Regions from separate parts of the Homo sapiens genome. Here regions 1 and 3 are each linked to region 2. The links come from fine-mapping of genetic effects on plasma protein levels. A gene starts in region 2. Each other region holds a variant in brackets. All regions are shown on one strand. Distances are from middle to middle.

Region 1 (2,765 bases), 160 kb before region 2:
CAGAGAGAGACAGAGAGAGAGAGAGAGAGACAGAGAGAGAGAGAAAGAGAAGTAGAGAAACTTTAAATGCTCTCAAGATTTTTAAATTTAGAACCAAAATTTTAATGTTAGAGATTACTATTAGAAGCCAGCTGGCAGAAGTTTTCTTCCCTCCTTGAAGTAACTTCTCTGAGTCTCTTTTCTCATTTTGGAGTTACTAGATCTCACTCTGTCTTCCAATTCTTTTATCTATTGTGAGACTTACTCCACTTAAAACGGCATTGGTGTAGGGAGGCTGATAAAGGAAAATCCATCATCTTGAAATACAGGTTGAGGAATTCATTTTAATGTTCCTGTGCCTCTATTCTCTAAGATGAGAACCTACATCATTGGAAAGCTGATTTAAAACTAAAAGAAGAAGAGAGGATACTTTATAATGGGCATGAAGAAATCAGAGCTTTCATGTTCTAGAAATCAAATCTGTCACAGTCTTGCCTCTTTGCATCTCCTCCTTGCTTATCTCAAAGGATTTCCAAATTAAGATGCATAAACTGGATAGCTTCTTTCAGATTCAATTTGTCTTAGCAAAATTCTTAGGATTTTCCTTTCCCTCACTCTTAGCAATCATAGTTTATTGGTGGTGCCAGCAGCATAAATCACTATCTTAATTTTCTACATAATTTATACATACTAAATCATTTCCCAAACCATGTATAGGAGGTATTTAAAGAGGAAAATTAACTATCAAATAAAAATGAAACCCTAAAGCAGAAATTTTATATATAGACAGTTTCCTTCATATAGAATAAGGATTTTAATGTAACATTAGGGTCAAGAAATATAACATTATAATTTACAAAAGACAAACATGAAAAGTGTTGTGAAACATATTTAGTTTTTCAATTAGTAGGTCGAGGGGCAAAAATTCAAATGAATCACATTTGCTTCAGAAACCTTGGCAAGTAAATTTGTAAGGAATTTCCCTTTAACTAATTTAAAACACTCCTTCCAAAGGGAATTAGATAAATATCAGTCTCAACTCCATCCAACAATTAATTTTAGTTAGGTAATTTTTCGTTTTGTTTTTAATTGAACTGAGCAATACTTCTCACATGGTACAAAATCATGAGTGACAAAAAGCTAAGTCTAACTTCACCTACATTTTCCTCCCAAGAGCAAATAAGGAGCTTATTTGAATTTGGAAAACATACGACAACTTCATAAAGCTTTAATTTGACAAAATAGCATTTTCATTTCTTGGAAAAATTATTTTTCAACCACTAATTTACATGCTTAAAAATGAGAATTTCTTTACATTCAAATGATAATTAATATTGTGAATTTTCTCTTTGCATTAGAATTTCAAAAATGTATTTCAAGGTTGAGCTAGTAAAGAAACTTTTATCTTGTTTATAAATAGAAACAATTTTGAAAGACCCACGAATAGTCTTCTTACCTTGCACTCATAGAGAACACATACTCCAGAAGAGGAATAGACTGTAT[T/C]TCTTTCTCCTTCAAAGTAGGTTCGTCCTTGAAATTGGCATATCGCTTTGGAGTAAAAAATACATATATATTTATTTTATTGGGAAAAATAGCTTAGAAGGGATCAGATCATCTTGTAACAGCATTCCACATGTTATACACCTTTTTTCAACATGTATGACTAACCAGAAACCTCAATTCAATCTACTGCAAGGCACATGTAAACTTAAATTAGTGTCATGCAAATTAAGTTGAGAGAGTAAAATAAGATATAAAAAAGATAAAGGGCAATGACATGTCTGAATTAGACTCTGAAAAAGTAGTGCCAAAAAGCAGACTTACAGCCAATTACTTGCCTAATAGATGATGTCCCACTTAGGGCATATTAAGTAGTCACTTAGGGCGGCAATAAATCAGGGGTAATATGAGACTCAGGGAACAATATGAGAAAAGTTTTTGTTTTATATACCATTACAGAATTTTAAAATAGAACATTATAATAGAAAGAAGGTATATTCATTTCAGCACATCCATGTAAGTTTTAAGTTTTATGGTTTAGTGTCATTTTATTTATAAGTATGTATGGGTTAGGGCACCCCATCTAGGATGCTGAGAGGTCTGAATCTGAACCTGCCTTGCTTCCATCACAATTAAGTGAAATTTTAAAATGTAACCTTAGATTCCATGGGAAAAATATGTTTTTAATCCATAAAAATGCATAGAGTATCAAATAATCTTTTTCTAAAACCTGCAACATATTTACAGTTCACACAAACATTTAGCCAACAGAAATCATTTCCTTGTTTTGAAGTATTTCACACGACCTACACTGACTCATCACCTAAGGTGAAACAGATTTACCCTAAAGCTAATGATGCCTAATTTTCAGCGTCCTTCTCTGGCTTAGGCTCCTTGTAAGATGCTGAACTAAGTTCTCCTTTCATAATTTTGTATTGTTTATCTTTGAAAGGCCACCCAATATTGTAGATGCTTCAGGTCCCCATAACATCTAGATCTACCCCAAGATAATTATTTCAAAGACCAGTGGAAGTGATCAACTGATACAGACTCTGGCAATTTGTTCCCCAAATTTACTAAATCCAATTTTTTATTTTAACTATACAAATTATATAAAGTGAATGGGTATATTTTCTTTTGATTCCACTGTGTGAATTATGAGAAATTGTCTCACTCTTTGGAATTTATATATCCCTATTACCTTTAAAACTATCAACTTGCCAATAATAAAGAAGGAAGAAAGTAGACATATTTTTACTTTTAAATTTTATTATTTATTTTTTTCT
Region 2 (2,765 bases):
TAAGGGACTATCCATTAGAACTGGCAAGAGTACAAAGTACGAAGGAGAAGGGTGAGGCAGGGGAGAAAAAACCACTTAAAAGAGATAGGGATATGTGTCTCACACTGGCCCTTCTACACCTCAGCTAAAGTACTGTCATCCATGAGGCAATACAAAGTTAGGACAAGCGGCAAGAGCAACTCCTGCCGGGGTTATCGGAACTGAAATCACAGTGGGGATGCAGCACGCCGGGCATACCTTGAAAGAGAAAGGCTTTCGTCCCATTATGCAGCCCCGGGACCTGACGCACTCCGGTCGTGGACTCCCCAAGTTCTAACTCTGTTAAGACGTCAATCTGTAGGGAAGGGTCCACACCAAGCCCCCAAACTGGTGAGGGGTATGAGGTGGGAGAGAGAAAAAGGAAAAGCTCCATCAAAATGCAAGTCTCTTCCTCCAGGGCAGCAAAGAACCGCGTTTTCGCGACAATATTGGGAACTGAAGATGAGAGGCGACTGCCTCCTCCTCCGCCGAGAGCCTTACCTGAGATCAGCAGCCAAGCTTTAAATAGCGGAGCACCCAGTCCCGTTTCCATGACCTCCTTTAAACCCTTCTCTCTGCAAAGTTCCCCCTCAGCCCTCCGACCCTGGACTAGGGGCGTGATCCGCCTCGCGGTCTCCAAGGCAAGCACAGAAAAAAAAAAAATCCATATCCAAACCCGCCCCCTTACTCCAAGCTTCCCACTCCAGACCTACTTTGGGTCCGGGAAAAGCGAGGCTTCCCCAGCCAGCCCATGCTGCCCCGAGGCGGGAGCCATCCCTTTCCCCAGCCCCAGCTCTGCGGCCACTCACCTGCTCCGAGACCGAAGATCAAACAGAATGTTCTCAGTAAGACCCGAGACTCCATGGTGCGGATCAGCTCAGTCCATCGTCTCCCTCTTTAAAAATAAAAATAAAAATCGAAGAGGTTCTTGGAATCAAGCGGGAAAATAACGTTTGTCTCTCCTGCTGCTGCCTCGGATTTACTGATCAGTAGGATTAATACGCTTTGGTTGCCTAAGAAAGAAAAGGGAGGCCTCCCCAGGCGCGTGAAGAACTTAGACCCTCCAATGCGCACATCATTCCCACACGCAGGGCCGAGGCGGCAGCGCGGCCCGGAGGGGGCCCGGAGGGAGGGGTCGGACTCGCCCCGGCGCGGCTCCGTCGGGGAATTAGCTCCCGAGCCGAATAAAAGCAGCCAAAGACTCGCACACCCGGTAGAAGGGGGGCGGCCCCAAGAAAGCCCGGGCTGGGGCGGCCCCGCACCCCCCCGTCTTCCCCGCCGCCCGAACCTGTTGTAAAGGCAGAGACAATGGAGAAAGCTCCGGGAGACGCGCGGAGAGACTGCTCCTCCGGGGAGGGAGGGGCGGGCCGGGGGAGGCGGGGTAAGGAGGAGGGAGGGGCCGCCGAGGGCGAGGCCGGCGCTCAGCGTCGGTCTCCCGCACGGTCTCCTGGATGCCAAACCCGGTCTAGGGAGCCCAGGAGCCGTTGCAGCCTCAGCTCTTCTCCCTCCCTCTCTCGATGACCCGGGCAATGCCAACCTCCTTTCGGGATTGAAAGCTCTAAATCCAAGGTGCTAAGTTGATGGGCGGTCTTTGCTCTCACCCCTCGATTTCGGGCGCGTGTCTTGAAAGACAGGAGAGAAAAAAGACCACCCAGCTGCAGGAGGCAAGGCTGGAGCGAGTAGCGCTCGCCTGCCCTTTAAGCAAAGGAGGGAAGCCCATGTGCACTCGTGCACTGGGCTCCGGAGCAGCCCCGGGGTGCAGGGCACTCCCCCTCCAGGGCGTGCGGAGGAAGGCCACCAAAACACGCTGCACTGCCGAGGTGGAGCTGGGCAAAGTAGGTAGAGACTGGTGGGGACGGATGGCGAGCCTGGGAAGCCCCGGGTGTCCTGGTGGAGAGGTTCCCTGCCGGGGGCGGGGCGCTGGAGAGCTTCCCCGGCGCGGAGAGCTTCCCGGGCGCGGAGAGCGCAGAGAACTTGGCCAGGAGGTGCTGGACAGCTCCGGAACCCGCGCGCCCCCTGCCAAATAAAGCGTGGAGACCCGGACTCGGGCTCTCTGGGACCAGCATACAGCAGAAGGCAAGGGGAACTGAGCCAGGGCGTCTGTTCACGCCGAAATATCTACCTACATAGAGGAGATGGTTAGAGAGAGAGAGAGAGAGAGAAATAAATAAATACGTAAATAAGCAGAGGGAGGAGATGGAGCCCAGGCGAGAGAGAAGAGCCATCCCACTGTTGACCACACTCATGCAGGCTCTACCTGCCCTTCACCACATATGTCCGGGACCATAAAAGTGGTGTCCTTTGAGATCCATTTTTCAGCAGGCACATGTATGTTCAAGATCAATGGTACATAATATTTTTTGAACATAGCCCTAAAATTTTTAGGTAAATTTTGAGGAATGGCATTCCACTTTCATTTTGGAAAAGTTAAGAGTTTAAAAAACCATTATGGTATTAATCTGTACAAAGATCAATTGGGTTTCTTAACCTTCCATGCAAACATGTGGGTACTGAATTCTCCAACTGGATACTAACAGCTACAGTTACCAAAATGCCTACTGGGTAGTCTGAGCCCCCTGCAAGGCAGGAGTATAATATACATTTTATCTATAGATATATAGTTATAGATATTATCATATAGTGGAATACATATACTATATTATACTATAGGGAAAGAGGTATTTTTAGATCTGCCCTTAGAATTTTTAAGACAAAAGATTCAGAATTCGGGAGCTCTTTTAAATTAA
Region 3 (2,765 bases), 590 kb before region 2:
TTTTTCAGCTTTATTGGGGTATAATTAACAAAATTGTATATGTTTAAAGTGCACAACATGATTTAATATACATATGCATGTATCAACACAATCAAATTAATGAACATATTCATCATACATAGTTAACCATTGTGTGTGTATGTATGTATGCATGTGGTGAAGACACTCAATACCTACCTTCCTAGTGAATTTCAAGTAAAACTTCAGTATTATTAATTATAGTCACCATGCTGTACATTAGATCCTCAGAACCTATTCACTTATAACTGAAAGTTTGTACACTTCAAACAACATCTCCCAATTTTCCCCACTCATAATCCCTGATATCTGTTCTTCTACTCTTTGCTTCTATGAGTTCTACTTTTTCAGATATCACATGTAAGTGATACCATACAGTATGGGTATTTCTATATCTGGCTTATTTTATTTAGCATAATGTTCTTTAGGTGCATCCATGTTGTTGCAAATGGAAGGATTTCATCTCTTTTAAGGCTGAATACTATCCCATTTTGTGTGTGTGTGTGTGTGTGTGTGTGTGTGTGTGTGTGTGTAACATTTTCTTTCTTCATTCATCCATTAATAGGTACTTAGGTTGGTTCTACATCTTGGCTGTTGTGAATAATGATGATATGAACAAGAAAGTGCAGATATCTCATCAAGATACTGACTTAATTGCCTTTAGATATATATTCAGAAGTGGATTTGCTGGATTGTATAGTAGTTTTATTTTTAATTTTTTGAAGAACCTCCTTACTGTTTGCCATACTTGCTGAATCAATTTACATTACCATTCCCACTAACAATGTAAAAGAGATCTGTTTTCTTTTCTTTTCTCTTTTTTTTTTTTTTTTTTTTGAGACAGAGTCTCCCTCTGTTACCTAGGCTGGAGTGCAGTGGCACAATCTCAGCTCACTGCAACCTCCGCCTCTCAGGTTCAAGCGATTCTCCTGCCTCAGCCTCCCGAGTAACTGGGATTGCAGGCGCCCGCCACCATGCCTGGCTAATTTTTTGTATTTTTAGTAGAGACAGGGTTTCACTATGTTGGCCAGGATGGTCTCAAACTCCTTCCTGATCCGCCCGCCTCAGCTTCCCAAAGTGCTGGGATTA[C/A]AGCCACTGCACTGAGTCTAGGGATCCCTTTTCTTAACACCATCACCAACACTTGTTATCCCTTGTCTTTTTGATAATAACCATTCTAACAGCAATATGTCATTGTAGTTTTAATTTGCATTTCCCAGATGATTAGTGAGATAAAGCACCTTTTAATACACCTGTTGGGCATTTGTATGTTTTCTTTGGAAGAATGTTTATTCACACCCCTTGCCCATTTTCTAACCAGGTTATTTCATTTTTTGCTATTAACTTGTATGAGTTCCTTATATATTTTTAATATTAACCCCTTGTCAGATACAAGGTTTGTAAAACCATCTCCCATTTCATAGCTTGCCTTTTTATTTCTTTTGCAGTACATAAGTGTGATTGTTTCTTTTGCAGTACATAAGTTTCTTACTTTGATGTTATCCCGTTTGCTTATTTTTATTTTTTTGCCTCTGCTTTTTGTGTCATATACAAAAAATCATTGCCAATACGAATGTCAAGGAGCTTTTTCCCTGTTTTCTTATAAGAGTTTTATGATTTCAGGCCTTACATTTAAGTCTTTAATCCATTTTGAGTTAATATTTGTGTATGATGTAGGTGTCTAATTTCTTTCTTTTGTATGTGGATATTCATTTATCACAATGCCATTCTCTTTGTATTCTTAGTGCTTTTGTCAAAGATTAGTTGACTGTCTATGTATGGGTTTATTTCTGGCTCTCTGTTCTATTGGTCTATGTATCTCATTTTTATGCCAGTAGCATACTGTTTTGATTACTGTAGCTTTGTAACATAATTTGAAATCAGAAGGTGTGACACCTCCAGTTTTGTTCTTTTTTATTTTTTAAGGACAAGTGTCTCTCTTTGTCACCTGGGCTGCAGTGCAATGGCTTAGTCATAGCTCACTGCAAACTCAAACTCCTGGACTCAAGCAATCCTCCCACCTCAGCTTCTGGAGTTGCTGGGGCTATAAGCATGCACCATCAGCCCCAGCTGGTTATTAATTTTTTATATATAAAAGCGAGGTCTCACTATGTTACCCAGGGTGGTCTGGAACTTCCAATCTCAAGATCCTCCTACCTTGGTCTCCCAAAGCACTGATATTTTAGGCATGAGCTACTGTGCCTGGCCCTGCTGTACTTTCCCAAGATTCGTTTGGCTATTCAACATCTTCTATAGTTTTATATTAATTTTAGAAATGTTTTTCTGATTTCTTTGAAAAATGCCATTGGAATTTTTATAGGGATTACATTGAATCTGTAGATTTATTTGGGTAATATGGATATTTTAGCAGTATTAATTATTCCCATCTCTGAAGATAGGAAGTATTCCATTTATTTGTCTCTTCAGTTTCTTTCATCAACATCTTACAATTTTCAGTGTACAGATCTTTCACCTCTCGTTAAATTTATTTGCAAGAATTTTATTCTTTATTATTCTTTTGTAAAGTGGATTGTTTTGATTCTTTTTAGATGGTTTATTATTAGTATGTAGAAACACAGCTAACTTTTGTATGTTGATTTTTTTGTCCTGCAACTTTACTCAATTTGTTTATTAGTTCTAACAGTTTTTTTTTTTTTTTTTTTTTTTGGTGGAGTCTTTAGGGTTTCCTGTATGTAAGATCATGTTATCTGCAATCAGAAACAGTTTTTCTTCCTTTCTGATTTGGATAT

Direction of the effects. Alleles are on the strand shown, and positions count from the first base shown. The strength of an association depends on the size of the effect and on how common the allele is.
For the plasma level of the protein whose gene starts at base 1,328 in region 2, allele T in region 1 goes with a higher level than allele C (moderate association).
For the plasma level of the protein whose gene starts at base 1,328 in region 2, allele C in region 3 goes with a higher level than allele A (weak association).

The links. PIP is the chance, under the fine-mapping model, that this variant and not a neighbour inherited with it causes the effect. Protein levels are from antibody-based Olink assays in UK Biobank. Linkage for the fine-mapping came from a reference panel and not from the study's own genotypes, which makes the PIPs less certain.
Region 1: its variant is fine-mapped to the plasma level of the NELL2 protein (UK Biobank, PIP above 0.99). The variant lies in the coding sequence of NELL2. If it changes the protein, the assay may bind it differently, which can mimic a change of level.
Region 3: its variant is fine-mapped to the plasma level of the NELL2 protein (UK Biobank, PIP above 0.99).

What each region holds. Positions count from the first base shown.
Region 1 is chr12:44,713,215-44,715,979 of GRCh38, forward strand. It overlaps NELL2 (neural EGFL like 2), which reads right to left. Exons shown (of 20, transcript NM_001145108.2): 10 at 1,436-1,527. Among named protein-coding and RNA genes, the nearest start is that of NELL2, 160 kb to the right of the region's middle. The variant T/C (reference allele first, on the strand shown) is at 1,483.
Region 2 is chr12:44,874,988-44,877,752 of GRCh38, forward strand. NELL2 (neural EGFL like 2) reads right to left here and starts at 1,328. Exons shown (of 20, transcript NM_001145108.2): 1 at 828-1,328; 2 at 238-366. The coding sequence starts at 882. RefSeq lists enhancers at 1,451-1,952, 1,953-2,452.
Region 3 is chr12:44,288,716-44,291,480 of GRCh38, forward strand. All of the region lies in intron 5 of TMEM117 (transmembrane protein 117), which reads left to right. Among named protein-coding and RNA genes, the nearest start is that of TMEM117, 450 kb to the left of the region's middle. The variant C/A (reference allele first, on the strand shown) is at 1,108.